7 linked regions of the Homo sapiens genome follow. The protein of the gene in region 4 purifies or fractionates together with the protein of the main gene of each other region. This does not show direct contact. Each region holds a gene or a part of one and is shown on either strand. Other genes may lie near its edges.

What was found.
Region 1: the proteins of CHIA (region 4) and DNAJC19 purify together in Homo sapiens (co-immunoprecipitation; one large-scale study listed by IntAct). This does not show direct contact.
Region 2: the proteins of CHIA (region 4) and LYPLAL1 purify together in Homo sapiens (co-immunoprecipitation; one large-scale study listed by IntAct). This does not show direct contact.
Region 3: the proteins of CHIA (region 4) and ALDH3B1 purify together in Homo sapiens (affinity purification with mass spectrometry; one large-scale study listed by BioGRID and IntAct). This does not show direct contact.
Region 5: the proteins of CHIA (region 4) and SLC2A8 purify together in Homo sapiens (affinity purification with mass spectrometry; 3 studies listed by BioGRID and IntAct, with this or other methods). This does not show direct contact.
Region 6: the proteins of CHIA (region 4) and RNF123 purify together in Homo sapiens (affinity purification with mass spectrometry; 2 studies listed by BioGRID and IntAct, with this or other methods). This does not show direct contact.
Region 7: the proteins of CHIA (region 4) and MINDY1 purify together in Homo sapiens (affinity purification with mass spectrometry; 3 studies listed by BioGRID and IntAct, with this or other methods). This does not show direct contact.

What each region holds. Positions count from the first base shown.
Region 1 is NC_000003.12:180,982,751-180,987,269, reverse strand, and holds the end of DNAJC19 (mitochondrial import inner membrane translocase subunit TIM14), read left to right. Parts: intron 1-247; coding exon 248-327; intron 328-1,273; coding exon 1,274-1,344; intron 1,345-2,559; coding exon 2,560-2,630; 3' UTR 2,631-3,561; downstream 3,562-4,519. UniProt on the Homo sapiens protein: Mitochondrial co-chaperone which forms a complex with prohibitins to regulate cardiolipin remodeling.
Region 2 is NC_000001.11:219,208,002-219,212,492, reverse strand, and holds part of LYPLAL1 (lysophospholipase-like protein 1), read right to left. Parts: intron 1,979-4,491; coding exon of another isoform or gene 1,962-1,978; coding exon 1,846-1,961; intron 1,002-1,845; coding exon 765-1,001; 3' UTR 1-764.
Region 3 is NC_000011.10:68,016,416-68,020,906, forward strand, and holds part of ALDH3B1 (aldehyde dehydrogenase family 3 member B1), read left to right. Parts: intron 1-2,111; coding exon 2,112-2,222; intron 2,223-2,357; coding exon 2,358-2,478; intron 2,479-2,754; coding exon 2,755-2,840; intron 2,841-3,299; coding exon 3,300-3,381; intron 3,382-4,491. UniProt on the Homo sapiens protein: Oxidizes medium and long chain saturated and unsaturated fatty aldehydes generated in the plasma membrane into non-toxic fatty acids. May have a protective role against the cytotoxicity induced by lipid peroxidation.
Region 4 is NC_000001.11:111,289,688-111,293,650, forward strand, and holds the start of CHIA (acidic mammalian chitinase isoform c precursor), read left to right. Parts: upstream 1-1,163; 5' UTR 1,164-1,263; intron 1,264-3,963.
Region 5 is NC_000009.12:127,400,169-127,403,668, reverse strand, and holds part of SLC2A8 (solute carrier family 2, facilitated glucose transporter member 8), read right to left. Parts: intron 1,113-3,500; coding exon 916-1,112; intron 10-915; coding exon 1-9.
Region 6 is NC_000003.12:49,712,974-49,717,464, forward strand, and holds part of RNF123 (E3 ubiquitin-protein ligase RNF123), read left to right. Parts: intron 1-539; coding exon 540-614; intron 615-764; coding exon 765-852; intron 853-936; coding exon 937-1,024; intron 1,025-1,116; coding exon 1,117-1,201; intron 1,202-2,601; coding exon 2,602-2,741; intron 2,742-2,848; coding exon 2,849-3,037; intron 3,038-3,128; coding exon 3,129-3,204; intron 3,205-3,419; coding exon 3,420-3,504; intron 3,505-3,855; exon of another isoform or gene 3,856-4,491. UniProt on the Homo sapiens protein: Catalytic subunit of the KPC complex that acts as E3 ubiquitin-protein ligase. Promotes the ubiquitination and proteasome-mediated degradation of CDKN1B which is the cyclin-dependent kinase inhibitor at the G0-G1 transition of the cell cycle.
Region 7 is NC_000001.11:150,999,996-151,004,486, reverse strand, and holds part of MINDY1 (ubiquitin carboxyl-terminal hydrolase MINDY-1), read left to right. Parts: intron 1-1,518; exon of another isoform or gene 1,519-1,780; coding exon of another isoform or gene 1,781-1,869; coding exon 1,870-2,322; intron 2,323-2,657; exon of another isoform or gene 2,658-2,704; coding exon 2,705-2,762; intron 2,763-3,172; coding exon 3,173-3,237; intron 3,238-3,871; coding exon 3,872-4,030; intron 4,031-4,491. UniProt on the Homo sapiens protein: Hydrolase that can specifically remove 'Lys-48'-linked conjugated ubiquitin from proteins. Has exodeubiquitinase activity and has a preference for long polyubiquitin chains. May play a regulatory role at the level of protein turnover.

The sequences.
Region 1 (4,519 bases), on a different chromosome or scaffold from region 4:
GTCTTATATTTCTAAGATAGTTCATATTGACTGGAAAAAAATGAATCTGTTTAATGATCATTAAAATACTACTTGTTGCTACTTATTTATAAACTTTATTCAGCTTTAGCTAAAATACCTCGGGAATTGCACTAAAAGTCCTCTGAAATGTCTTAGTTTTTCTTAGTTCTGTGAATATTTCCAGACGTCTTTTTTAAAGCAACTTTATTTTATTAACCTTTCTTTACAAATGCATTTCTTCTTTCAGGCCTTCAGTGGTGGCTATTATAGAGGTGGGTTTGAACCCAAAATGACAAAACGGGAAGCAGCATTAATACTAGGTGTAAGGTAAAATAATCTCTAATATTTTTAGCATTTTTCTACCACTGTAGAGCCATGAGGAAATATAAGAAAGACCTTCTCTCCTTTAATAGGAGAGGGTCATGGGGGATTTTGTCCTAGGAAGATTGATATTACCAATTCTAATCAATGAAACTGTACTGTTCCTTCATGTTATTTTTAAGATGTAAACAATCCTTCAAATGAGAAGGCACACTAGCACTTAAGCACTTTTTCTTTTTTCCTAGAGTGTTTACTAAAACACAGGCACTTTTTCATTTATTTAAAGATAGACTCCTCAGCAGATTATCACAGTGTTCAGTGTTGTTCTCTGTAACTGACATTTTTTTTGTGGTGAAATTCTGCCTTCAACCGGGCGCGGTGACTCACGTCTGTAATCCCAGCACTTTGGGAGGCCAAGGCCAGTGGATTACTTGAGGTCAGGAGTTCAAGACCAGCCTGGCAAACATGGTGAAACCCCGTCTCTACTTAAAATACAAAAATTAGCCAGGCGTAATGGCACACACCTGTAATCCCAGCTACTCGGAAGGCTGAGGCAGGAGAATCGCTTGAACCCGGGAGGCCGAGGTTGCAGTGAACCAAGATCAAGCCACTGCACTCCAGCCTAGGGGACAGAGTGAGACTATCTCAAAAAAAAAAAAAAACAAAACTCTTCCTTCTTCATTTTCAAATCCTTAAACATGCGTTTCTTATCAATAAAAGGACTGTTGTAATGGGTACTGCAAGTTCAACACATTTTTGAGAGTGCCTTACTTTTCTAAGTAGTTTCCCAATTTAGGATACGCATTGGGTGTGTTGAGGTTTCTAAACAGCTTTTCATACTGTTGTGTTAATTTACTACAGTTTCACAGTGTCTTTAATTGGCCTTTATGTACAGTTTTTTGATGTGATGCAGAAGTAGGATGAAGTAAATACCATTTCTTTTTTTAATTAGCCCTACTGCCAATAAAGGGAAAATAAGAGATGCTCATCGACGAATTATGCTTTTAAATCATCCTGACAAAGGTAAGTAGTCATTAAATTCTCGTTGATGTTGTTGGTGTGACCAATAGTTATTAATGGGATAATTTTATCTCAAATTCCTGGCTATTAGAAAGGTAACACTTAAATCTGTAAGTCCTGTCTCCTAGGCTGGAGCCATATATTTTTGGTGTCTTAAAAGAAATTAAGTGAAAACTTTACTTACAGAATGAGCAGATGTAAGTGCTACTATTACTATGTTTTGTGGGTTTTTCTGGCCTACATTTATTATAATTAAAACGTTAAATTTCGTAAAACTAAAATGTAATTTTTCCTTATCCATTTTAGATACCTTGAAACGGAGATTACCTAGATAGAAACTTATGGGATTTATTTATTCGTTTGTGATAGACTTCTATGCAGCCTTGGCTGTGTTGAAGGAAAGCAAGAATTTCTTTGAATACCAAAAAATAGACCACAGAATTCATGTTCTAGTGTTTGTATCCTTTTACTTATACAGGAGAGGGCTTTCATTAATAAAAAGGGTTTTGACATTTTAAACAGGGTTATAATTGTTTGATATCTACTTCACAGTATCTTTTATGAAATTTAGCTTGTTTTATATGGAGGGCTTCTGACTCAGTAGGTCGGCAGTGGAGCCCCATAAATATGCATTTATACTAAATTTCCTGTTATTTCTTGCTGGTCTTAGGACCATACTTTGAGAATCACTCCTCCAGCAGATTCGTAGGAAAGCAGCTGTAGATGACATTGTGAAGGGACAGTAGATAACAGGAAAAGAAAAACTGGACAGAAAAAGGATGTAAAGCAAACTGGGATCTTTCCAGTAAACAGCTCAGAAGCCTCTGAGAATATCATGGTATTAAAATAACATGGTATAATTGATGTTCATTTATGACCTGTAATCATGAATAGGCTAACACCAGTTCAAAGGCATATACATATATATCTAATATATATGATAGAAATCCTATTTCTATCAGTTTAAGCTTTCTAAAAAGGTGTTATTTTTGTAGAAATATCTCCCACGTAAATTACTTCATTTCTCATTGGTCACATATATTACCATATATTTGGTCATCCAGTTGCAGTGTCAGGGTTATTTTTTAAAAATTAAAACACTGTTTCTGCTAAATCTCCCTCAGATAAGCATTGGAGTCCTTGAAACAAGAGTAGCTTTTTACCAAGCAGAAATTGAGAATCCATATTGTAACTGTTCTTTTTTCTTTCTTCCTATAGGAGGATCTCCTTATATAGCAGCCAAAATCAATGAAGCTAAAGATTTACTAGAAGGTCAAGCTAAAAAATGAAGTAAATGTATGATGAATTTTAAGTTCGTATTAGTTTATGTATATGAGTACTAAGTTTTTATAATAAAATGCCTCAGAGCTACAATTTTAAAAAATGATTTAGCACAAGCTAAATCTCAAAGCCTTGGTATAATTTTCTTGTTTAAATTTGGGGATTTTAAATCAGATTATAGTTTAGAATATTTGCGTATTAATTATGGGCAAGCACACACCTTCTGAATAGAAATATTGTTCATTACTCATTTAGCAGATAATTTGGGACCTATGTCTACTTTTCAAGGCAAAGTGAAGATGACAGTCCTTGCTCTCAGGGAGCCCCCACTTTAATGGGAGACTGATAAACTGGTAATTAGACTGTGATAAATAGTATGATGGAAATTAGCTTAAGCTGTTTAAGTAGGGACTCTTCTTATTCGGTGGAAAGGCTGTTCCAGGTACAGGCAACTGGCCTGGCAACTTGGATACTTGGAACCTTGTATTTAAAAGTGAATTTAACCACAACTGAGACCTAAGAAATTGACCTAGGGGTGTGTGTGTGTGTGTATTCTATGTACATATAAACCATTTTTATTTCATGCATTAAAAATAGTATGATAAAGATTTCAGAGTACAGGTCTGGTACAATCACAGTTCATTGCAGCCTCAACCTCCTGGGTTTAAGCAGTCCTCCCGCCTCAGCCTCCCAAAGTACTGGGATTACAGGCATGAGTATTTACATTGTATTCAGCTAGCCCCTTAAAGGTAATGACCATTTATAAATTATTCCTTCAGTTGGCTATTTCTTGACATAATCAAACTTCTGCAATTGTTATGATTAAGCTTAAACCCTGTTAGCAAAACTGAAAACTGAAATGTTCTCAATATCAACATATTTAATTTGGACTCTTTAGAATTTATACACTAATAAATTTAAATGATGTTTAAAGGCAAATTACTTACTGTTTGTCTAACATAAAATATATAAGGATCTTAAGAGGACCTGTATAAAACATCTGGTATAAACTAGTATGTATTTCTCAACAGGAGTATTTCTTATGTGTAGCTCTAAGATGATAAATTATACTACCTACCGTCTAAACTTCCTTAAGTCATCATAAGTTTCTTAATTATTGGAGGATACAAGGACTTTTGAGGTTAAAAAAATAGTGGAGGTAATATTTATCTGCCTTATAAAGTAAAGGTATATCTGCTCTTTGTGTTTTCTATCCAATACCCTCGTTTAAAATCTGATGGAGTCTGTTATGATTTAGTGTATGATGAAACACTAGCTTCTAAGGCTTTTATGCAGGATAAATTATTTCCAGGGACAAGGAGACATGAAAGTACAGCTGGTTCTTGTTTGTGGTAATTCTGTTCTTTAAGGTGGCTATGAACACTGAATTAGCAAATAAGGAACAAGTTCCTAAGAGAAATACAGATTCTGTGACCCTTTGGTCACAATATTGTCTGCCAGTCAGTATATAACCTTGATCGACCTGTTTCTGCTTGAAAACATTCTTTAGTATTTCATTAACTTTCAATTAACAGCCAACAGCACTATAACTAACTCATGCTTGGGACATCACGGCCTTCTTTGCATTTGGGAACACTAGGTAGCATGCTTCACTACTACTCTTAGGAACCATCTTAAAACAGCAAAATCACCAACAAAAAGCACAAACATGAAACTTGGCACTAAATAGACCACAAAAAGGATATCTGTTTATGGTGTGAGAGCTTAAACAAGGTAGAGCATTGCCTTGTGCACATAAAGTGGTTTAAATTTTTTGTCACTCTGCAAATACTCACAAATGACCAGAAAAGGATGTTGATTTTGGAGTTACAAATTTTAGTGAGTAGGCAAATTCACAGATAAGGAATTCTACTAATAATGAGGATCAACTGTATTT
Region 2 (4,491 bases), about 110 Mb from region 4:
TATTCCTGGAACCAGATCATGACTCTCCTTATGGTTAATCTTTATTGAGTGTTTATTATGTATTGGCTTTTGGCTATTTATTTAAATCTCAACAAAAATCCAATGGGATAAGTACTATTAGTATCATTTTACAGATGAAATTGAGACCTAAAACAGAGCAGCAATTTGGGTTAACAGAAATAGAGCTCCACTGAGAATTAGGAGACCTGAATTTCTTGTCTTGACCTGCAAGCTGTGGGAAAGTCTTTAACTCCTCTATTGCTATTATTAAATACCAGTAACAACTTCTCGGCTTACTTCACAAAGCTCTTGTGATGATCAAATGAAATAATGTGAAACCGGTTTATAAACCTAGAGTATTAATGTTATTCCGTGGAAAATTACATAAACACAAATATCTTTGGAAAGGTAATTTAAACAAAGTTGTAGAAAAGATAAAATAACATTATGCTAAGTCCTTTCATGTTTTTTCATTGTCCTTATTTATATTAGTTTAGAATACTTTATTTCAAAAATTTAAAAGTTTAAATACTTAAAAGGTTTCCAAATATTTACAGAATTGTGTCTGAAAAATTATGCACAGATGTTTGTCTATTGTTTTTCATTAATAAGATTAGCTACTGTCTACAGTGATAAGCATTTTAATAATAAAAAAGTCAGGAAAGTGTTATTTCTTAATATTTTAATTATCATTATAATTTGGCAGTAAAAATCACTTTTCACAAAGACATTACACTTACATTAACAAATCACTCTTGATTCATTCATTTTTGTTTTTCCATTTCTCCTGGCAGCTTTGTAAGAATCCATAACTTCAATATGTCTAACTCAGTTTTGCTTAGCTCATGGTAAACATTTGGAAAACTATGAAACTTCGTGGTCACTCCTAGAGATTTTAACATTGAGTTTGTCTCTTCTGCCCAAGAATGAAGAACTAACTCATCTGCAGTACCATGACACTGAAATAATTCAGGAAGTACACCATTACTCTTCTGAAGAGCCTAGAGAAGAAGATACAAAGACAGAAAAGTTTAAGAAATTCCATTTAAGATCATTCTTAGAAATCAGAGAGAACAGGAAAATTCCAATTTTACCAAGGCTTCAATAACTAATGGGAAAAAAAAGGCAGAGGGAGTGCTGTCTGAGGTATACATTGGTGGGCCAGGCCTGGGGACTTAGCTGGTTCCTGGCATCACTCAATTTGTAACTGTGTGTCACTTACATTTATTCTATAGAGGACGTCTTAAAAATGGCCAAAGCATTTCCTAAAGAAACTAAGTGACTTGGGAAGACAGACCTCTTCACACAATGTGGAAGGAGGGAGGAGTACACAGCTAAGGCACAATCAAGGGGACAATTACATTTTAGTTCTCTATTCTGTATCTGCTTTAACATTTCCACTTCTGGTACTGAAGCTGTAACATTATAATTGAAGCTGCATCATATTCATAGATGAGGATATTGCTGCATAATAAGTATGTGCTATGTAATTGATTTTTGTTTTATGTTCATGATGCAATAAGCAAACCCAGCTATAACCATCATGCAGTTTTAATATGTATAAAATTTACATATATGCTCCCCCACAACCACACACATGATTATCCTTTCCTCCTTGACATTTTGCTTAACAATATTTCTTGTACAGGGGATTTCCAAAACATTAATGATCAGCTGGAATTTAATCACTACGACTCATTTGGCCATGAATTCCAGGAATGGTCAATCCATATCAACTGTGCATCAACTGTGTGTGTGTTTTACAGCTTTATTACCGATTTTGCTTTAGTTTTAACATGTATATATTTCATATTTTTTTCATTTTTTTTTAAATCTGGAACTTACCTGGTAAACAGCAGATGCTTTATTCAGAAAACTAGAAAGAGCAAATACTCCTGCCACATCTTGATGATTTCTATATGCTAAATGTATTGCCATGCATCCTCCCATAGAGAATCCTCCTAAAAACAAAAACATACTTAAAAGTAGAATACATAAAATAATAATTTAGGATATGATATATAACAATTTTCCATATTTTTAAAATATCTGGAGACCTTTAAAGAGAATGCTAAAAAGAAATTTCGTCTACTCTAAGTTTCACAGACAAAGGCCTGCGATAACATAAATAACCCTGTTCCCTCTATGTCACCACTGGTAAAGAGAGCTGTGCTCTACAAGGAGCCAGGATTAAACAAATATATCATGTTCACCAAGTAAAATATCTATCGTAATTCAAAATGAGTCATATTACAAGCATTACTTAAATTCTCAATATTTACTTATATTTTGTTTACACGTACAGAAACCCTCACACTGCAACGCAATTAATAATTTGCACCTTTTTGTCTTACTTGCTAAGCTGTGAGCTCCATAAGGAGTTATGTATCTGGTGTTTGCTATATAATAGATGCTTAGTGAATTCTGAATTAAGAATGATAAAAAAAATTTGAGGAGCTAGTTAACACATTTTTGGATTACAATATTATTTTGGAAACTAATTTATGGTGATATAATAAAAATGAAACATGTATGCCTATATGTAGTTTTTAAAACCAAAGTTTGAAAAAAAAATTAGTCAAACTGTTATTGTCTCTTTAATGTACCAATTCTATGCCAGTCACTGGATATATGCAGATTAAAATACACAGACCCTCCTGTTCAGGGGAACTTTGAGAAGGAAACACATCCAACACAGAATATGGAGATAGCTGTTATGAGGTGACGGCAGCAGAGAGAATGGTGATTCCAGGCCTGACGACAAGTCAGTGACTCAGTGTGACATTCCTAAGCTTGAGAGAAAGCTAAATGACATCTCATTATATTCCATGAGAAAATACAGAATGTAAATCATGTAGCCACACACTCATAGAAATACAAAAATATACTTTGAAGTAGAATTCAAATCTCCTAATTTCAAGTCTGCTGCTTTATTTCACTTAACAAAGTGTAAAGCTGAGCTCTTAAGAGACCATAAATTTGAATTTACTACAATAATCTTTTATACATGGAGGGAACTGAGGCCCAAGATTAGGTACATATTATTTTAAATATAAAACTATTAATAGTAATTTTGGAATTCGGATCTTTTGCAATAGAGTTTAATATACTTTCTACTATCCCTTGATATTTATTAAAATAGGACTACTTTATCTGGAATAGGCAGGTAATATTATTTTGGACTCAGAACACAAATACCCGAGAGAAGATTACCAGTCTGGCAAAGTTTAGATTTTTTAAAAAAGGCACACTATGTAAATAATGAATAAAAGTTATCTGTGATTTTCAACATACCAGCAAGAAATAATAAGTTCTTATCGTAGCAGTAGCCCACCATGGACAAGAGCCACCTGAAAGGCTCTTTCAAAATACCCCCAATAACTCCAGATGTAGATACATCTAATTAGAAGTTCATAAATGAGCTTGGTGGGGGAGAAAAAAGCATAAGCATCTTAACACTGTATGTAAAATTTGCAAATGTACATTAGATTCTCCAAAAGGTTAAAAGCCACTGGGCTACATTATCCATGAATTTGTGCATTAATAAATCTTTGACATGTCCCATTTAGATATGAACAGCTTACGTAAATACACAAATTAGTATTTCTGGTAAACATTTATTGTAAGTACACAGAAAAAAATCTCAACTTTATTGTTTTTTGCCACAATTCTAGTTACAGATTTCTCTCTGCTTATGAAGTTTTCTCTTTAATAACATCATGAGGGTTGTAAAGCGAAGACATTTTGAAATAAAATTCTTATCGATTTAATTTATTGAATATAAATTATTGAGATTTTGAAACCCTTAAGGGTAAGAAACAGTTTTTCTTCAATAATCATATTTTCATTGAGTGCTTATGATTAGCTGAACAAAGTGTCTCTGTGGTGCACGCATACTAATGAGTCAGTTTCAACTTTACACGCTCAGTGGTAAGTATAGTGCTTTGCACATAGCAGTAACTCAATAAAAATTTAACTGAATTTTTAGAAACCGTATGGGTTTCTAATGAAAGTAGTAAAAAATTTACAAATATCTCTTAAGCTTATCAAAGAGACAACATTAAGGAAACTAGTTCTAGTCCTGCCTGTGATACTCCCAAGCTGAATGTCTTTGTGTAAATTATTTAAAATGCTGGATTTCATTTATAGTAAAACAAGATAGATGGACTAATCTCTAGATTTTCCACCAACCTTTTAAATACAAATACTTAATCAGTTATAAAAACTAAAATTGCGAGAACTTTTAAAATGTACAGTTACTGTAAATACAGAAATCTACTTTCAGTTTAAGAATCCCTATCTCTCAGAACACAATTCTAGCTTTCCTAAAAGTTCACAGAATAGAGCTTACCAAACACTCACTTCCTTCATCTCTTCCAATTTCCCCTCTGTTCTTTACAGCCCATTTACTTACAAAGGAATTTCAGGTTGCTTAAAATCAAACACACTGTTAATAATAAAACTACATCTCTAAAATAGGAGAGAATGTGA
Region 3 (4,491 bases), on a different chromosome or scaffold from region 4:
TGTAGGGCCTCGGAGGCCGTGAGGCCTTGGCCTTCTCTCTGGGTACAGCAGGCATCATGGCCTCTGTCTAGACCCTGAAGGCTTGGGGCCTCAGCCCCTCCCAATCCCAGTGGCAGCCAAGGCAGAACCCCAAGAAACACACTTCCCCCAACCCCTCACCCATCAGGGCCCATGCACCTGCCTGCCCCTGCCTCAGGACACCTGCCCCTGCCTCAGGACACCACCTGCCCCTGCCTCAGCACATCTGCCCCAGGGGCTGCCCCCGGCTCCTATTCTCTGGACAAAATATCTCCTCCCTTTGCCTTGAAGGCTGTAGTGTTCAGACCTTCCCCCAGCCCATTGGGCTCCCTGGGGACTGACTCCCCCGCCACCACTGAGCTTCTGCCACCGGCCGCCTGCCGGCCTTCATGAGACTTGACCTGACGTCTGTCTGGTCCCTTTTCTCCCTTCGGCTCTGATTCCACCTCCTGCCTTCCCATCCCAGCTGCAGGAGCGGGGCCCTACAAAGGCAGCAGTAGCCCAGAACATTCAACCTGGTCCCTCCCTCTGGACCTGGTCACCCCCCTGTCCCCACCCTCAGCAGGCAGCATCTGCCCAGCGTCACGTGCACCCTCTCAGTTAACCCTTTGGTGAATCTGGTTGGGCAACCACACCCAGTGGCCCCCAGAAGAGGCTCAGAGAGAGTGTGTTCTTGCCCAAGGGCATGCAGCCAGGAAGAGCAGAGCCAGAGTTTGAACCTGGCTCAAAATAGCCCAGTCTCCCAAAGTCAGGTCCCAGGTGACCTAGGAGGTGTGGCGGGCAGGCCACCAGGCTCATGGGGCCAGAGCACAGGCTGTGGGAAAGTCCGTGTGGAAGGCACCTTCCCCCAGCCTCAGTGGCTAGGAGGTGCCAGTGGGCGTGGCGTCTTCCTCCCTCTTGGGGCTCAGCTGTAGCCCTGGCCTTGCCCCTGGTTCGCTGAGTGACCTCAGGCAGGGCATCTCCTTCTCTGGGCTTCGCTGGTCCTCTGGCCCATCCAGCACCCCACTGGCCCGTCCCCCTCTGCCCTGACCCGGGAGAGCCTGCACCCCATAACCTCAGGCGCTGCCTCAGCCAGGGAGCCAGCCTGGCCCCAGTGTCCCTGACCTGTTCTCCAGCGGCCTGCAGCCTGCTGCCTGGCTGGTCTCTCCTCCCTTGGGGCGCAGAGGGCAGGGAGCACTGGCTAGCCGAGAGCAGGACAATGTCCCTATTGATTCGGGTCTCCTCACTCCTGCTTAGAAGCCTGACAGTGGCCCTGGCCCCTGGGCTGTGGGAACTGACAGCATTTACCTAGGGGTGGCTGTGCCTGTGTCTCCTGTGGACCAATCTCCACCCTGCTCTTTGGGAGACTGAGGTGGGAGGATTGTTTGAGGCCAGGAGTTCAAGACCTACCTAGGCAACACAGCAAGGCACTCTGCAAAAAATCAAAACAAACTTTTTTTGAAATTAAAAAAAAACAAAACCCTAAGTCAGATCCCATCCCTGCTCTTCTCAGGAGTCCTTGCCTGGCTGCCTGGCCCCCTCACCTTGCCCACTCTGCTTCTTGCTAAACAGGAGCAGAGCAAGCGCACAGCCACCTCGGGGCCTTTGCAGCCGCCAGGGCCTCTGCCCAAAGTATGCCGCCTCCCAGTACCCACGACTTGCTTGTTCCTTGACTTCAGGTCACTGCTCCAATGTGACCGCCGCCTGGAGACCTGCACTGACCGCTTTGTAAAAACAGCACACACACACATGCTCATGTGGATGTATACATGTGCACACCTGTGCACGCCCACAGCCACACGCTCCAGCAGTCTCCACCCCCACCCTGCTCCATGATTTCCCTAGCACAGCCACGTCCTAATGGAGCCGTCAGCGTTCTCACTTTCACATGGAACGACTGCCCCCTGCAAGGTCGGCCTCAGGGCCGGTCCCTCTGTTTGGCACAGAGACAGCACCTCACACAGGAAGCACGCACTGAACATGGAGTGAGTGAGTGAACGAATGAATGAAAATGAATGAATGAGTTGTGGAAGCAGGCCCTGCCTGGAGGAGGCTGTGCCCTCCTGCCAACTCTGGGAATCCTGGCCCACCCTGACCCCACCCACTTCCTGCAGTCAGCCTTCGAGTCGGAGGTGTCTGAGGTTGCCATCAGCCAGGGCGAGGTCACCCTGGCCCTCAGGAACCTCCGGGCCTGGATGAAGGACGAGCGTGTGCCCAAGAACCTGGTGAGCCGGCCGGGCTGAGGCGGGCAGGGGGCTCAGGGGATATTTGCTCCCACAGGGTGGCCCCTCTGGGTGGGAGCTGGCTGCTGAGGGGCCGGGGTGCTGAGCACTTAATTTCATCCCCGGCTCCCGGCCCAGGCCACGCAGCTGGACTCCGCCTTCATCCGGAAGGAGCCCTTTGGCCTGGTCCTCATCATTGCGCCCTGGAACTATCCGCTGAACCTGACGCTGGTGCCCCTCGTGGGAGCCCTCGCTGCAGGTGAGAGCTGGGCCTGCCCCTTCCGGTCACCCTTCTCCGCTCGAGGCCTCAGGGCCACCCATGGATCCCAGGAGGACATGGGAGAACTGGCCCAGGTGGCAAAGAGGACTGTCTGGTCCACCGTCCCCGGGCTGTGTGGCCCTGGGCCCGTCATGTTACCTCTCTGAACCAGGTTCTGCATCTGAAAGTGGGTGAGGCTGATGCCTGCCCTGCAGGTGTGTGGAGACCAGGAGCTGGCTACGCCTCCTCCAGCTCTCTCCCTGCACTGCCCTGCAGGGAACTGTGTGGTGCTGAAGCCATCGGAGATTAGCAAGAACGTCGAGAAGATCCTGGCCGAGGTGCTGCCCCAATACGTGGACCAGGTGAGCAGGGCTGCCGGGCAGGTAGAGCGGGAACAGGCAAGGCTCAAGGGCTGGGCAGCCCCTGGCATGGAAGGGCCTGTCAGTCAGACCCGAGTCCCCACCTCAATCCTGCCTCTTCTGAGTTGTGTAAACTTGACCAAGTCACCGCCCCTGTCAGCCTCAGTTTCCCTCTGAGGAGCAGCGAGGGCAGCCTGTTGCCCAGGGGTTCCGTGTCTGCCTCCACCTGGCCCTGGCATCAGCCCCTCCAGCGCCAGCTGGACTCCAAGCTGGGCCTGCCAATGCCAGCCAACCTTGGGGAGCTCCCTTCTCCCCACTTTGCCTCCACCCAACCCTCCTAGAGCCCTGGCTGGGTCAGGCCAGGCGGGGTGGAGGCAGGGCAGGGTCCAGGCAGGGCGGGCTGCTCCCTTGTGTTCTCGGAGCTGGGGTCCCAGAAGGAGCCTCACCCATCCCGCCTTGCAGAGCTGCTTTGCTGTGGTGCTGGGCGGGCCCCAGGAGACGGGGCAGCTGCTAGAGCACAGGTTCGACTACATCTTCTTCACAGGTGAGGCCGGGACGAGGGTCGGGACAGGCTGGGGTCGGGGAGGACAGCTGCTCAGGGGTCCTGTCCCTAACTCTGGGAGTCCACAGGGAGACTGAATTCTCCTCTCTCTCTCTCTCTGGACCAGGCTGGGAGCAGTCCTGGACCCCCAGGACCCCTTAGGAAGGGATGGAGTCCCATGTCCAGGGCCAGCCCACTGTGCCAACCACAGCGTCAGGAACCATAGCCTCTGCCCCCACTGTCCCCAGACCCTCATACGTGACCCTGCTGCCCCCCAGGCTCTTAGACACCACCCTACTGGTGCCCACAGCCCTCTCTGCAGGCAGATGAGGGACTGGGCCTCAGTGTCCTGCCCAGGGTCACCCTGCTGGCCAGGATGGGGACAGGCTGGAATGTGCACACAAGCCCTTGGAGAAATCCACGCCAGAGGTCACTTTTTTTTTCTTTTTTTTTGAGACAGAGTCTTGCTCTGTCACCCAGGCAGTGGCACAATCTTGGCACAATCTTGGCTCACTGCAACCTCTGCGCCTCCTGGGTTCAAGTGATGCTCATGCCTCAGCTTCCCAAGTAGCTGGGGTGACAGGCATGTACCACCACGCCCGGCTAATTTTTTGTATTTTTAGTAAAGACAGGGTCTCACTCTGTTGCTCAGGCTGGTCTCGAACTCTTGGCCTCAACCAGTCCTCCTGCCTTGGTCTCCTAAAGTGCAGGGATCACAGGCATGAGCCACCACACCCGGCTTCGAGTTTTTGAGCTAGGGAGGGGCAGAGGGAGCGAGAGGAAGACAGTGGTGCTGGCAGGCGAGTCTGCGCCTTACAGGTCGAGGCAGTCGTGGGGAAGGGCCTGGCAGGATTGACCTGGCCGCCTCCCAGCAAAGGCAAAGGAGCCCTGGAAGGAACCACAGAGCCCAGGAAGCACTGTGCCAGGATGGGGCAGGGGTGAGAGTAGAGAAGGCACAGTGGCTCCTGCCGGCTTTAATCCTTGACCACAAGGGGGAGAAATGCCAGGGCCATCCCCACAGACGCAGCAGCGTGGTCCCCGAGTCAGGTCTGGAGAGGAGGCCTTGAGGCCCAGACAGGGCTAGGGCAGAGAAGGCTGTGTGCATGCGGAGAC
Region 4 (3,963 bases):
AAAACTTTGGTGAATGTGAAATGATTTATATATGGTCTTATCCAAGCAGGATCAAACAAATTCCATCCTCTGACCCTCTTCCTATGACTGATAGGATCAGTTCAAGATGGCACAGGTTGTCATGTTATTAGGGTGTTATGAGCTCCAGTTAAATGGGTGCAAAGGGAAGGAAAGACAAAGTATGTGACTTATGAGGTTAGTTCCCTCATAACAAGTGAAGAAGATAATCTGAAATAGGCTGATTGAACTAACCGAACTTCTGGGTAGACTCCCACTATAGCTCCGTCTTAGAAAGTCTATGTGATTACTGCTTCTATATAAAGGGTTAAACATGATAAAATTGATGATGGTCCCTATCTTTGTCTATGGAAAAAAATATCCAGTGAGTTTTGGGGGAACTCATGACCCAAGTCATAATAGGAATTTCAGGCTTCATAAAGACATCATGGTTGAAGCAGAGGTGTTCTGTTTCCAGCAAAGCCCAACAGGAAGCTAACTTTTGCTTTTTGAAAGGAGGATTCCCCACCAGACTGGGAAGCAACAGCCTAGGCTCCAGAGTCGGACACTGGACTTAAGTTGTTATCAGATGAATTTGCTCAGCTGCGTACTGTTGTGTTACAAAATCAAATGGCATTAGATACGCTTACCTCAGCCCAAGGAGGGTTTTGCACCTTACTGCATACTGAATGTTCTGTGTATAGCCCTAACAATTCTCACAATATTACTCACAAAGCCATGTTGGGTGTGGTTTTTATTAATTGTGCTTTTAATTCTGCTGTACTTAACCTGTATCTGTAAACTATATCAAATATCCCTTCCCCATGTATCTGTAAGGGTATTTTCCTGCAATTGAGTATCAGATTGAGGCCAAATGTGGAGGAAAAGTTAAATATTAAATTTGAACTCAACTGAACATGGACACAAACAATGGTCACCAAGTCCCGGAACAGGTTGTGTGAGCCCCTTGAGGCGTTCATCCAGCACTGTTTTGGAAAAATCTCTATTTCAATCTAGTCCTATATGTTAGTTATTGAAAAAAATAGACAGTCTCAAAAAACAAGCTGACCTTTTTATGTTCCTTGAACCTAGTTGTGAAGGGCCCTTGTTACTGGGCCTCATGCCAAACAACTCGTTACAAAAACAGCTAGAGTCCCAGACGGTGCCAAAGCTTCATGAAACCTCCTCGTCTGTGCACGAACAGGTGGCCGACTCTGGAGCCCAGGCTGTTGCTTTCCAGTCTGGTGGTGAATCCTCCATAGTCTGGTGAGTGTAAATATATATATATCTTTTCCCTTCTCCCTTTCCCATTGCAATTTGATTGTTATATCAATTTGCTTATTATATCAAGTTGTTTATTATATCGTTTGCTTATTACATCTGCATTGCCATTTATGTGAGATAAAGGTTGTTTACCCTTAAAGGTATTGTGTGTGTGTCTTTTCTCCTCCCCTCACACATCTCTCACACAGATCATTTTATACCCAAAGGGATATAAATCATTCTACTATAAAGACACATGCACACGTATGGTTATTGCAGCACTATTTACAATAGCAAAGACATGGAACCAACTCAAATGCCCATCAATGATAGACTGGATAAAGAAAATGTGGTACATATACATCACGGAATACTATGCAGCCATAAACAGGAATGAGATCATGTCTTTGCAGGGACATGGATGAAGCTGGAAGCTATCATCCTCAGCAAACTAACACAGAAACAGAAAACTAAACACTGGATGTTCTCACTCATAAGATGGAGTTGGAACAATGAGAACACATGGACACCGGGAAGGGAACAAGAAACACTGGAGCCAGCTGAGGGGTTGGGGGCAAGGGGGGGAGAGCATTAGGACAAATACCTAATGCATGTGGGGATTAAAACCTAGATGACGGGTTGATAGGTGCAGCAAACCATCATGGCACACGTATACCTATGTAACAAACCTACACATTCTGCACTTGTATCCTGGAACTTAAAGTAAAATTTTTTTTAAAAAGGGGGGAAAAATATATAGCAAAATGCAACTGGAATTTCCAAATGAATTAGTATTTTATTTAAACATCTATATTTTAAAAATAATTGTAATAATGAGAATACATAGACACAGGGAGGGGAGCAACACACACTGGGGCCTGTCGGGGGGGGGTGGGGGTAGGGAAAGCATCAGGATAAAGAGCTAAAGCATGTGGGGCTTCATACCTAGGTGATGGGTTGATAGGTGCAGCAAGCCACCATGGCACATGTTTACCTATGTAAGAAACCTGCACGTCCTGCACATGTATCACGGAACTTAAAATAAAATAGAATTAAATTAAATCTTAAAAATAGTAATTGTAATAAATTTATATTTGAAACATGTAAGGTATTTAATTCACACACAATGTTTTGTGTGCAAACTCCCCTTTCCCCTATAATTACTCCTCAGCTATCCAAGGACTTGAGGTCTTCAGATTGGGAAAAATAACATTAACTAAAATTTATTAAATAACTAACATGTGCTAGGCCCAGTGCTAGGTAGGTTATCTCATTTAATTCTCACAACAACCCTATAAGACAACAACTAGTATTATCCATATGTAATACATGAGGAAATTGAGGTTCACAGGTGAAATAACTTGTCTAATGTCACATATCTAGAAAGAAGGAGAACAAAAATTGAAATATAAGTTAGCGATTCTAGAGACCATGCTGATATTCTGTTCTGTCATATGGCAACCTTTGTGCTGGACAGATGTGGGAGAATGCTCTCTGCAATTGACTGGCATTGGTTATTCTAACAGTCTTACCCTCTTTGTATGTGAATAAACTGGCATTCTCACTTACATTGACTGCATGGGCCAGTCTCCGTTATCTTTTTTTCCATGTTTTAAAAATGTTTTTCTTGTGGTAAAATAGACCAAAACAAATTACCAACTTAAATATTTTAAGTGTACAGTTCGGTGGTACTAAATACATTCATAATGTTCTTGAGCCATCTCTCCTTTCCATCTCCATAATTCTTTTCATCATGTAAAACTCCAGCTCTATACTCATTAACCTGTAAGTCCCCATTTCCCCCTCCCCCAGCTCCAGGAAACCACTATTCTACTTTCTGTCTCCATGATTTTGACTATTCTAAGTATCTCACATAAACAGAAAAATCATATATTATCTGTCTTTTTGGACTGGCTTTTTTCATTGAGTATAATGTCTCAAGATTCATCCATGTTGTAGCAAGTCAGAATTTCCTTTTAAAGGCTGAATAATACTTTATTGTATGTATATATAACAGTTTTGTTATCCATTCATTCACTGAAGGACACTTGAGTTGCTTGCATGTTTTAGCTATGGTGAGTAATGTTACTGTGAACATGGAAGTACAAATATTTCTTTGACACCAAGCTTTAAGTTATTTTGGGTATACCTAGAAGCGGAATTGCTGGATCATATGGTAATTCTATGTATGATTTTTTTAGGAACTTCCATACTGTTTTCCATAGCAGCTGTACCGTTTTACATTCCCACCAACAGGGCACAACTGCTCCAATTTTTCCACATCCTTGTTAACACTTATTATTTTCTGTTTTTTGATAGTAGCCATCCTAGTGGATATGAGGTGATGTCTCATTGTAGATTTGATAGGCATTTCCTTAATGATTAATGGCATTAAGCATCTTTTTATGTGTTTATTGGCCATTTCAATATCTTCTTTGAAGAAATAGATATTCAAGTCCTTTGTCCATTTTGAATCAAGTTGTTTGGTTGTGTGTGTGTGTGTCATTGAATTTTAGAAGTTCTCTCTATATTCTGAATATCTCTTATCAGATAAACTCTTTGCAAATATTTTCTACCATTCCGTGAGTTGCACTTTTACTCTGTTTGCATTGTCTTTTGATATACAAACATTTAAAATATTCATGAAGTCCAATTTGTGCATTGTATTCTTTTGTTGTCTGTGATTTAGGTGTCATATCCAAC
Region 5 (3,500 bases), on a different chromosome or scaffold from region 4:
GTGAAAGCTCTGCTCTGACGGATACTGGCCATCAGGATTTCTCTCTCCCCTCCCGCAAGCGGCCCCCCTCTGGGGGTCTACTGTCCTAAGGCTTGGGGAGCGCTGACTCCCACGTCTTGGCTCCTCATCCCAGCACCCCCTGTGTCCTCAGGTGTGCAGACAAGTCCCAGCCTCCCCATGTGTCAGGTGAGATGACCCTCACCTGCCCAGGGCACTTCCTGATAGGTGGGGGGGAGCCACAAAGAGGTAATCTGGGCAAAGAGCAAGCTGCTGCCCTCATCCCTGCCACCACCAACACATCCAGCACCTGCCTCAGGTCTGGGCCTGGCCCTAGCTAAGCACCTCCTACAGCCCTGACCCTCCCCTCCCCACTGAACCCATCCTCCTCGCTGACCCCACCCTCCCCACTGAGCCCCCCTCCTCCCTAAGCCCCGCCTTCCTTTCCCCCACTGAGTCCCACCCAGCACTGTGAAGCAGGTGCTGACTCCCACATCACAGGTGAAGAGCTAAAGCTTAGGTGAGGGGCAGCGTGGGGGCTTCAAACCCATGCCTGGGTGACTCTAAAACCCAGACTTTTAGCCCTCTACCCTGCCTTGCAACTCCTTTGTTAAATCCAAGTCCTCAGCTCTGCCTCTGTATCCCCCACCAGGCCTGGCCATTCTCTTCCTGGGACAGTAAGGGTCAAAGCTCGGGCTTTGCTGGTGACTTTGGAGGCCAGGGCCCAGCTCCGTGGGGCTCCAGCTGTCTTGGCCTGCTCAAAGACAGGACACACTGGGCCTGTCCTCGCTGAGGGTGGAGGGTGGATAGGCACCTCCCTGTCCCCCACCCCCCAAGTGTGTGGCCTTGGGAACAGGCTGTGCTACCCTCCCGTGACTGCTGTCCCACTCCTGTCAGCTCTGCCTTCCAGCCTCTCACCTGCTCAGCCCCGATGGGGGGGTCTTCCCAGCCCTGCTCGGAGCCCCACAGGAACCGCAGGGCGGCCATGGCCTCCTGGCGCCTGTGCTGAGTCAGCAGGAAGCGCGGGGTCTCGGGCATGAAGCACATGAGAAGCAGCATGAGGGAGGGGGGCACGCAGCCCAGCACAGCCAGCCAGCGCCACTCCAGCACCCAGCCTGCGGGGGGTGGGTGGAGGAGGCTGGCGTCAGAGCCAGGGTGAGCCAGCCTGGGCCTTGCCAGCCTCAAAGACTCAGCTTCAGAGATGGGGCCTCGCTGCCTCTGCACATCTGCCCTCATGTTCGCTACTGACATTGCCATTATCACAACTGTTCATGAAGGCACATGGCACGGGCCAATCACACCAGCTGCGGAAGCGACAGTGGGTATGACAACGCGGACATTACTAGGCTGCATCCGTTCAACGAAACATTTATGTAGCCACAAAAATGAAGGATGAGGTGCTTGCTGCGTGTCCGCATGGTATGATGTGGCACCATTTGTAGAAGAGGTGGGGGAGGGAGGATAAATATGCATGTCCCTCATATGAACAGACTCTCTGAAGGCTACCAAGAAACAGGCAATGGGGACTCCCCCAGACAAGAAAGGGACAGAGGCGGAGGAAGCTTTTCACTGGACATCTCTCCACTCTGGCACTTGAGTGTTGAGTCATTTGAATGCATTATCTATTCAAAGTATACATGAAAGTAGAGAGGTGAGAGGATTTTGCTGTCTTGACGTATGAAGAACAGCATAAGTGCAGAATTACCTAGTTTTATATAAAGTTAAAAGGTTCTCTTACAAAGGGGCCCTGGAATAAATGAGTCTAGGGCATTGCTGCTCTAATTACTAATTTTTCCTAAGCCCAAGGCTTACCCATCCCTGGTTCCCAGTGGAAAAATACCTCTAAGGTAGCCATGATGTCCCTATTTTTCTTCTGTGCTGGGGGTGCAGACAATTGTTCTATGAAGTCTAGTCGTTGGAACATGATTGCCCCAATGTGAAGCAAACGTGCCACCACCATGTCACTTTGTGGAGTTATCAGAGTTCACCCACCCCAGTGGATCGAAACTCACAGAAATTGATCAGGAAAGGCAGGAGAAGCAACAAGCACATATTAAGATGAGCTGAAGATAGTGCCACGGGTGGGTGGACACCCAGTACCTGTCCCCGAAATGATGAATGTCAACACCTGCACACAGTGGGGGCTTTGGTTTACTCAGGTCTCCCAAGGTAGCCAGATCGCTGGCAGGATTCTGAATTTGTTAGGGTGGTTAAGTGGGTAAAAATGAAACACCAAAGACCTGTGTATCATCCGCCCTGACGATGCAGAGGGCTTGTGCCCTGGGCCAGGCCATAGCCCGTCAGGCCCCCGAGGCCTCCTACCCCGATGATCCCCATGGTTCTCAAGTCATCCCTTGACAATTCTCATTTGGAACCCACTGTTAGGCACTTTTCATGTGTCAATTAATTTAATGGACAGGTACTGGACTAGATGAGGTTATGCCCATTTCAAGACAGAGAAACTGAGGCTTTCAGAGGTGGTATGACTTGGCCAAGGTCACACAGCACGTAGGAGAGGCTATCCCCAAACTCAGGATGGTCAGATTTGAAGCCTGCCCTTGTTTTTTCTTTCTTTTTGAGACAGAGTCTCACTGTGTCGCCCACACTGGAGTGCAGTGGCGCGATCTCAGCTCACTGAAACCTCAGCCTTCTGGGTTCAAGCAATTCTTGTGCCTCAGCCCCCCAGGTAGCTGGGATTACAGGTGCCCACCACCACGCCTGGCTAATTTTTGTATTTTAAATAGAAATGGGTTTTCACCATGTTGGCCAGGCTGATCTCGAACTCCTGACCTCAAGTGATCCGCCCACCTCTGCCTCCCAAAGTGCTGGGATTACAGGTGTGAGCCACTGGGTCTGGCCTCTAAAGCCTGGCCTCTTTCTAATGAGAACACACCTGTCTCCTGAAGTTTCTTCATGCTGGCCCAGCTTTGCCCCTCGGGGTCCCCAGGACCCCGGCCTCCTTCACGTTGCAACTCGCCGACATGGTGAATCTGGCACTGACATTCTCAGGGGACTTGCTCAGCCCTTTACTCGCCCGGGCTGAAGATTTTTACAGGGACCCACCCACCTCTGGAGCCCTCTGGTTTGTCACTGCACAGTAAGGTACTGACCTAAGCAGTCAGCCCTTCCCACACCCCTAGAGGGGGCTTCAGGAAAGCTGAGGGTATCACCTTCTCCAGCTGTCCCTGGAACTCAGTCATAAGACACACCTATCGGCCGGGCGCGGTGGCTCACACCTGTAATCCCAGCACTTTGGGAAGCTGAGGTTTGGCGGTTCATGAGGTCAGGAGATCAAGACCATCCTGGCTAACACGGTGAAACCCCCTTTCTACCAAAAATACAAACAATTAGCCAGGTGTGGTGGCACATGCCTGTAGTCCCAGCTACTTGGGAAGCTGAGACAGGAGAATCGCTTGAACCCAGGAGGCAGAGGTTGCAGAGAGCCACCACTGCACTCCAGCCTGGGCGACAGAGCGGGACTCTGTCTCAAAAAAAAAAAAAAA
Region 6 (4,491 bases), on a different chromosome or scaffold from region 4:
CCTTGACTCCCTGGCACTGGTCACAAAGCGTAGCAGTTGGTCAGGGGCAGAATGGTTTGTCTTGGTAAATCACAGCAGGGGGTGGACCCTGCTAGGGTCCACATCCGAACCTGGGCCTCTCAGCCTGCTGATTCCAGGCTGGGCGTGGCAGTGTATGTCTGGATCAGGCAGTGAGCTGTCAGGCCCCTAGCCTGCCCCCTGCCCAGCCACAGGCCTCAGTGCAGGCTTTGTCTTCAAAGACAGAGCTGTGAGTGCCCAAGGAGCTTTGACTGCTCATCAGGTGTGTGTGCTGAGATGGGTTTGAGCCCAGGTCAGGGCTCCTGCCAGGGCCTGTCATCCCTTCACAGTGAGCCTGTGCCTTAGCCCTTGCACAGCCACCAATGAATGCTTTGCCCGATGTCCCCAGATGCCACCCTGGGTCCAGGCTGGCCTTGGGAGCCAGCTCTAGAGCCTGCTACCCAAGTCCACCCACCCTGCTGACATGCCTGCCTCTGGAGCCCCCACTCCCAGCCGACACGTCTCACTTCCCACCCTTGCAGGCTATGAAGAGACCCTGACCCGCCTGGCTGCCATTCTCGCCAAACACTTTGCCGACGCACGCATTGTGGGCACTGGTGAGGGGCCCCTACAGAGGGTACAGGGGGAGGGGGATGGGATGGCACCTCTGGTCGGCTTTCTTCTATGAAAAATGTGGCCAGGTGGGCATGAAGTATGGGTCCAGGGCTCATGCCAAGCCCCTGCTGAGGCACGGTGTGTCCCCGCAGACATCCGAGACTCACTGATGCAGGCCCTGGCCAGCTACGTGTGCTACCCACACTCCCTGCGGGCTGTGGAGCGAATCCCCGAGGAGCAGTGAGTGGGGCCTGGGGGGCACACACCCTGGCCACAAGCACCATGCCCAGCCTCACCCCGTCTCTCCCCTCCTTGCCCTCACAGGCGTATCGCCATGGTGAGGAACCTCCTGGCGCCCTATGAGCAGCGGCCCTGGGCCCAGACCAACTGGATCCTGGTGCGGCTCTGGAGGGTAAGCCTGACTCGAGGGGAAGTGGCTGAGGCTGGCTGGAGGGAGAGGGTGCGCTGTCCCATTGACCTGGGCACTGACCCCCACCTCCACAGGGCTGTGGCTTCGGGTACCGCTATACACGGCTGCCACATCTGCTGAAAACCAAACTTGAGGACGCCAATTTGCCCAGCCTCCAGAGTGAGTATCTGGGTTGGGCGAGTCCTGGGCAAGGCAGGCGGGGGCGCTTACCTCCTACCCATGGGTTCTTTCAGACTCTCCACTTCTTCCAGCCCCTCTCTGGTTCCCCCATTGGGTCCCAGACTCCCTACGTGTCCCCTGGGGTTTCCACTTTCCCTGCTTCCTTCCAGCCCAAGGATACTCGGGATGGGACTCCCCCTCCCCAGCCTTGCCCACAGTCTTACCTACATGTGCCCTTTGGGCCTGGATGCTCTATGTGGGTCATGGTGAGAGGCGGCACCATGTTCCTGGCCTGCTACAGCTCATGCAGACTGAATACTCTGTCCCTTGCCCTTTAAGCTAGCTCCCTGACCTCCAGCCTTGTCCCAGCACCATGTCCTTCTGCTTCTTTTTTGCTATCTGCTGGTGGCAGACCCTGGCCTTGGCTTAGGCCTTGGACACCTGAGTCCACTGGGAGCACAGATTGGAGGTTGGCCAGGTCCCCAGAGGGTATTCACGAGAGTTCCTGGAGGAAGGGACATTTAGTTGGGAGCAGAGGCTGTGCCCTCTCTCCAGGGTCCAGCAAGGACTTTCCCCTAGGCCTGGCCCTTGCAGAGTGCCAGGTGTGCCACACACTGTCCTCACCCTTCATGGTGGCTCTTCTTGGCTCATGTAGTCTGTTTCTGCCCTTGTGGGCAGTGTTTTGGTCCAAAGGGTGTCCCCAGAGAGGCTGAGTGTCTTCTGCTAAGTCACACAGCAAGTCCTTGCCAATTGCCGTGGTCCTGCGTCCAGGGCGGAACTGAGCTGCAAGTGGAGAGCGGCAGTGGGGCCAGGCCTGTCCTGCTGCTGCGGGAACTATTGATTTGTATCAAGCTGGTGGGGAGGTGCGCCAGGCCCGTTGCAGCTGAGGGCTCCGGTTACTGCTGCCTGCCAGCCCAGACTTGGTGCCCACCACCTCGGCCATATGCCAAGGCCAGGCCAAGGGCAGCAGAGGACAGTAGAGGACAGCAGGTTTGCAGCAGGGCTTAGAGTAGGCTCTTGGAGGAGCTGGCCTTGGTGCCGGTGGGGAAGCATCTAAGCCGCCCTGTTTAGGTCTGACCCTATCTGAAGGGTGTGCGACCCAGAACTTGCTGAGGGTCAGGCTGTGGCTGTGTGGCTGCTCTGGACCTGGAGTGGATGGTGTGGTGTCAGGGCTGGACACAGCTGCAGCCTGGGGCTTGCCTAGTAGAAGGAGGGGACAGATTCTGTCCCAACTAACTCCAAGGCAGCTGTCCTCTGTCCCCTGCTTTCATGACCTGAGCATTCCTAGGGAGCCATCTTTCTGTCCTTATACCAAAGCCTCAATGGGCGAGGACAGAGGCAAACAGGCAGAGGCCACTGCAGTGGAGTCCCTGATGATGCCGCCTCCTGTCCCCCTGCAGAGCCCTGCCCTTCCACCCTGCTGCAGCAGCACATGGCGGACCTCCTACAGCAGGGTCCTGATGTGGCACCCAGCTTCCTCAACAGCGTCCTCAATCAGCTCAACTGGGCCTTCTCTGAATTCATTGGCATGATCCAAGAGGTGGGCTGTGGTGGGGCCTCGTGGGTTAGGGTGGTGCAAGGGATGAGGCCTGGTCCTGGGCTAGAGCCAGGTGCTGACCACTGCATGCCCACGTGTTGGTGGCTCAGATCCAGCAGGCTGCTGAGCGCCTGGAGCGGAACTTTGTGGACAGCCGGCAGCTCAAGGTATGTGCCACCTGCTTTGACCTCTCGGTCAGCCTGCTGCGTGTCTTGGAGATGACTATCACACTGGTGCCTGAGATATTCCTTGACTGGACCCGGCCTACCTCTGAGATGCTGCTGCGGCGTCTTGCACAGGTGTGGCCATCTGGGCAACAAGGGTGGGACCCTGGGGATGCCCCATTGATGACGCTCCCCATCCACCAATGGACTCCTGCTCCCCTCACAGCTGCTAAACCAGGTGCTGAACCGGGTGACAGCTGAGAGGAACCTGTTTGATCGTGTGGTCACCCTACGGCTGCCTGGTGAGGACCTAGATGCCCTGCACCCCAACACACTACAGGCCTCGGTTCCTCTGCTAGGAACAGTGAGGCCTGATTCCACATTCTGCCCCCGGACAGCCAGACTTGGTGCTCTGCAGTCTCGGCTCACCCTTCTGTAGAGAGGGCAGTGGGCAGGCCTGGAGCCCTTGAAGCAGGAGCATGTGGGTGGCTCATCTCTTTCCTCCCCTTCCCCTCAGGCCTAGAGAGCGTGGACCACTATCCCATTCTGGTGGCAGTGACGGGCATCCTGGTGCAGCTCCTGGTGCGTGGCCCAGCCTCAGAGTGAGTGTTGGGGACCGTGGGCCCCTGTGGGAGTTGGGTGTGTCTGGTGAGGAGGGGCTGGACAGGGCCTCCTGGTACTTCAGTTTCCTCATCTGGAAAATGGACCTCAGCATCAGGTTTTGAGGCAGAGGGAAGGTGGTGAGGTGTGAACGGCCTAAATAGGGGGCAGACGGAGCTGCTCTAAGTAGGAGAATCTGGGACCCCAGCAGGACAGGTGGCCCTGGCCCACAGAGCCACTGGCTTGTGGCCATGCCTCAGGCCAGGCATGGGAGGCAGGACTCCGGAGGGTGTGCCGTCCTGTGGTGGACAGGGCCAGGCCGCCAGGAGAGCTGAACACACGGAGGACCGCCATTGTCTGCAAAGGCTCTAGCAATAAGCATGTGCTACCTTTATTAAACTCTGGAGCAGCGAGGTCCAGGATGGCCATGGGGGCCCCCAGCTCGGCCCCCACACATGAAGGGCTCCCAGACCCCCCTTCCCTGCCCCCCTGCAGTGGGAGCAGTGAGATGCATATGAAGCCAGGGTACCGCCTCAGCCATTAGGCTGAGACCAGTGCCAGCCCTTAAGAGGCTCCTGCTCTCGAGGGACGTGGAGTTCCGGCTCGGCCCTCCCAGCTCGGCCATGCTCGCCAGGCTTTTCGGGCTTTTTACTGCTGAAAAGCAGGGGTGCAGGCCATGATCCCCTTCACTGTGTCTTGTGAGCCCACAGAATGGGCTCTGCCTTCAGAACAACGGGTGGATGCCCCAGGCCAGAGAGAGCAGGGCCTCTGGCTGGGGCTTAGGCCAGACCACCAGGAACCTCTTGAGGAGCCTTTCCTGCCTGGTGCCTGCCCACCGGACTCTGCGTGAAGTTGTGAAGCTTTCAGGAGGTTGGGTGTTGGTGGATGGAGGGAGTCCCATTTCACCAGAGGGCGGGCTTGTTTCCTCTTTCTGTCCTGGGGTGTGGGCGAGATCTTCCTTCAGAGCCGCCTTCTTTTCCCTGTGGGCC
Region 7 (4,491 bases), about 40 Mb from region 4:
AAGTGCTGGGATTACAGGCGTGAGCCACCGCGCCTGGCCCCTAACTAGTTTAATTTCTCCCTGTTTCTCTCCCTGATAAAGAGTGGGAGGGGAGCAAGGAGATTGAAGGGAGATGTTTTCCAAAGGGCAGGATTTGTGGTTTTTTATTATTTATACCCACAGTATTAGTTAAATGTCTATCTGTGCTTGCCTCAATGTGCCTCCAGTGCTGATAGAGAACAGGTTAAACAGGTCCGGTGTTCACATCTAAAATGACCTGGAGAGGACTGGGCACGGTGGCTCATGCCTGTAATCCCAGCACTTTGGGAGGCCAAGGTGGGAGGATCACCTGAGGTCGGAAGTTCAAGACCAGCCTGACCAACATGGAGAAACTCCATCTCTACTAAAAAATACAAAATTAGCTGGGCATGGTGTTGCATGCCTGTAATCCCAGCTACTCGGGAGGCTGAGGCAGGAGAATCACTTGAACCCAGGAGGCAGAGGTTGCAGTGAGCCGAGGTCGCACCATTGCACTCCAACCTAGGCAACAAGAGCAAAACTCTGTCTCAAAAAAATAAAAATAAATAAATAAAACCACTTGGATGGGAATAGACATAAAACTTTAGGTAGGTGAATGTACAGGAAGTATTGTTATGTAAATTAATAATCAGCATTTTCATATTTCATAGAAATAGCAGGCAAGAGAGTACCTCTGGGTTTAGGTAGTTTCTGGGGAAAAAAAATGAACTGAGGAAAAGTTGCTGTCTCAATGCTAGCTGTCAAGAGATGCTTACTGGGTCCAGGCACCGTGGCTCATGCCTGTAATCCCAGTCCTTTGGCAGGCTGAGGAGGGCGGATTGCTTGGGCCCCCAGGAGTTAAGACCAGCCTAGGCAACAAAGCAAGACCCTGTCTCAGTTTAATTAAAAGAAATTTGATATCTTTATTAATTTTTTTTAAAGAGAAGCTTACTGGAAGAACTTGTGGGGAGTGCTTTTTGTGCCCCTAATCTGAAGTTATTTATCAAAACCAGTCTCTGATTCCAGCCCCCACCACCTACATTTCCCCTCCCAGCTTACAGGAAACCCCTCCCAAGGCCTTTATACTGTGGTTTGGGATTGTGTAAGGTTCAGTAGAGCCCTTTGAGGTGGAAGACTTCCCCTTCCTCACCAGCATTTCACCTTTAGGGGCATGAAACTGACTCTCTGTGCCTCCTCCATTCTTCACCCCAAGTACTATGTGACTTAATCTTTTTATCCTTGGGTGAGGCAGAGAGAAGGTATCCCTAAACATACAAGCACTGTGTATTCTTAGTATGTTGTGTGAAGGGGCAGGGTGTGGGGTAGGGCAGAGGAATTATCTCTGTCATGGCTATGAGGGGGTTACTGATGTGATGCCTATTAGAGTAAGCTAAAGATCATCATATTAATAACCATTAGCGTAGATTTAACATTTCTTTCTCCACCTCTTATCCTTCTTTCTCCTTTGTGCTCTCCCTTTCTCTCTGTCTTTCCTCCCTTCCCTGTCATGATCTGTTTCAGGGAAGCTGACTCCACCCATGTGTTCAATCCCACCAGTCTTCCCTCCCAAGTCTGGAAGCCCCACGACCTCTTGGTCTCATCTGGTCACAGCAAGTTAGAGGTGGAAAGAGCTCAGCACGGGGCCCTTCTGTTTACACATATACTGCCCATAGCCAGGAGTTACTGCACAAACACTAGCCAGCCTTCTACACTACATTCCTTTTCCAAGACTTTTCTGGGTTAGTTTGCTTTCCAGCCCACTGATTTCCTTCTTATTGGACAGGTCACTCTTTTGCATCCCAAGCCTGGCTTAGGCAAGTCCCTGAGGTTAGTAAACACCTTCAGTGCCCCTCAGCCAAGTCCCTTTTGACCATGGAATACCATCAGCCTGAGGATCCAGCCCCTGGTAAGGCCGGGACTGCAGAAGCAGTCATCCCTGAAAACCATGAGGTTCTGGCAGGCCCAGATGAGCACCCTCAGGACACAGATGCAAGAGATGCTGATGGGGAGGCTAGAGAACGGGAGCCAGCAGACCAAGCTTTGCTGCCTAGCCAGTGTGGGGACAACCTTGAGTCCCCTCTGCCTGAAGCTAGCTCAGCTCCACCGGGGCCAACCCTTGGGACACTGCCTGAAGTAGAGACAATAAGGGCATGCTCCATGCCCCAGGAGCTTCCTCAGTCCCCCAGGACCCGACAGCCTGAGCCAGATTTCTACTGTGTCAAGTGGATCCCTTGGAAAGGAGAACAGACACCCATCATCACCCAGAGCACTAACGGCCCTTGCCCTCTCCTTGCCATCATGAACATCCTCTTTCTTCAGTGGAAGGTAAGAGAACATGCAGTTAGGGGTGCAAAAAATATCAGGGAGTACTCTTCCCTGACTTACTTCCTTGATCATCCTGATGTCCTCAAACTAGTCAAAACTTTTCAGATTGTTCTCCCTATTTCTCCAGCTTGAGCAAATGAGATAAGATGTTCCTAAAAACAAAGAAAAAAAAAAAAGAGGAAGATCTGTCCTACCCCTGTATCTCCTACTCCCTAGCAAATGCACATGCCTTGCAAGATTTCACATTCATTCCCTTGTGCCAGTTGCAAGCCTTTTTTCCTACCCCACCCTACTACTGGAGCTCCCCCTTGCCTTTCCATGGGTTCTTCCTTCAGTGCTCTTTGGAGGAAAGCACACACGTGATCACCCCTTCTGCCTCCAGGTGAAGCTCCCCCCGCAGAAGGAAGTGATCACATCGGATGAGCTCATGGCCCATCTTGGTGAGTGACTGGGCGTTGAAGAGGAATTACCCAAGGGGCTCCAGAGCTATCCACTCAGCCAGAAATCCAGACTATTCAGGGATCTCCATTTGGGGGTTCTGATACAGCAGGGAGGGTAAGGGTCTATGGGGCTTCTCTGCAAGGCTGGAGAATGAAAAGCAAAGGCGTCGGGAGTCCTGGGTTGTAACACCAATTCTGCCCTTAGCTTTTGTATCTGACCCTGGGTGGGCCGTTCACCTTTATGAGGCTGTCGCCTCCTCTGAGAAATGAAGAGTCTGGATTAGACTCTAAGTATTTTCCAGCTCTGAAAATCTGTGTTCTGTGACATTACCCGCATTCTCCAGGAGAAGAGGAAACTTAGCTTTTGGGATGATTGGTGGGGTAAGCTGATAAGGGGCCCTGTCTTGTAGGAAACTGCCTCCTGTCCATCAAGCCCCAGGAGAAGTCAGAGGGACTTCAGCTTAATTTTCAGCAGGTGAGGCAAAAGGTCTGCAGGCATAGGGGTTTGCAGGTTTGTAAGGGGACATCTTGTAATACTAAGATAAGCTTTTGTTGCTTCTTCAGAGGTTTCCTTGAACCATGATTTCATTCTGCAGGAGTCAGAGGAGAGTTTATCTTTGTCCTAGAAAATATGTTCATTGGCCGGGTGCTCACACCTGTAATCCCAGCACTTTGAGATGCCAAAGCGGGAGGATCACTTGAGGCCAGGAGTTCGAGGCCAGCCTGGGCAACATAATAATACCCCTGTCTCTAAAAAAAACCATTTTTTTTTTCAAGAATTAGCCAGGTATGGCGGTGCGTGCCTGTAGTCCCAGCTACTCAGGAGGCTGAGGTGGGAGGGTCACTTGAAACCAAGAGTTTGAGGCTGCAGTGAGCTAGGATCACACCACTGCACTCCAGCCTGGATGAAAGAATTAGACTTAGACTCTCAAAGAAAAACAATGTTCATTTATATAAGATAGAGAAGGGTTGAGGCAAGGGAGAAATGGAGTGGCTTGTAAGAGAATCAGGGAAGAAGAGCAGCAAGGTTAATTTTTAATTTCTGCAGGTGGGAGTGGAGTGGTGGGAGAGAAGGCTAGAATCTCCATCATTTTTTTTTCTACCCCCAGAATGTGGATGATGCAATGACAGTGCTGCCTAAACTGGCCACAGGTCTGGATGTCAATGTGCGATTCACAGGCGTCTCTGATTTTGAGTATACACCCGAGTGCAGTGTCTTTGACCTGCTAGGCATACCTCTGTACCATGGCTGGCTTGTTGATCCACAGGTGAGGGTGGGAGGGCCCACTGGGACCTTATCCAGCTCAAGCTGACATGAGAGAGGCAAATTTTTGTCGGGTAGAGGTTAGGGAGTTAGGGGTTAGATTGGCTTGGGAGGGAAATAGTGTTTAGAGACTGGACCCAGTACAGAATTCCTTGAATTTTAATCTATTTTGGGGGTAACATGCAAATACAAGCAAACTACATGCAAATAGGTCAGTTCTTTAGACATCAAAAATTCAGGAAGCAGATGGGTTTGGTGGCACATGCCTGTATTCCCAGCTACTTGGGAGGAGTTCGAGGCCAGTCTGGGCAACATAGCAACCCTATGATGAATGGTTCCTGAAATTTTTTTCTTTTTTGAGAGACCAAAAAAAAAAAGTGTTTAGGAACCATTCATCACAGGGTTGTAGTCCTTGTGAGCTTTGTTCATTTCCTTCCTTAAAAAAGAAAAAAAAATCCCAATTTT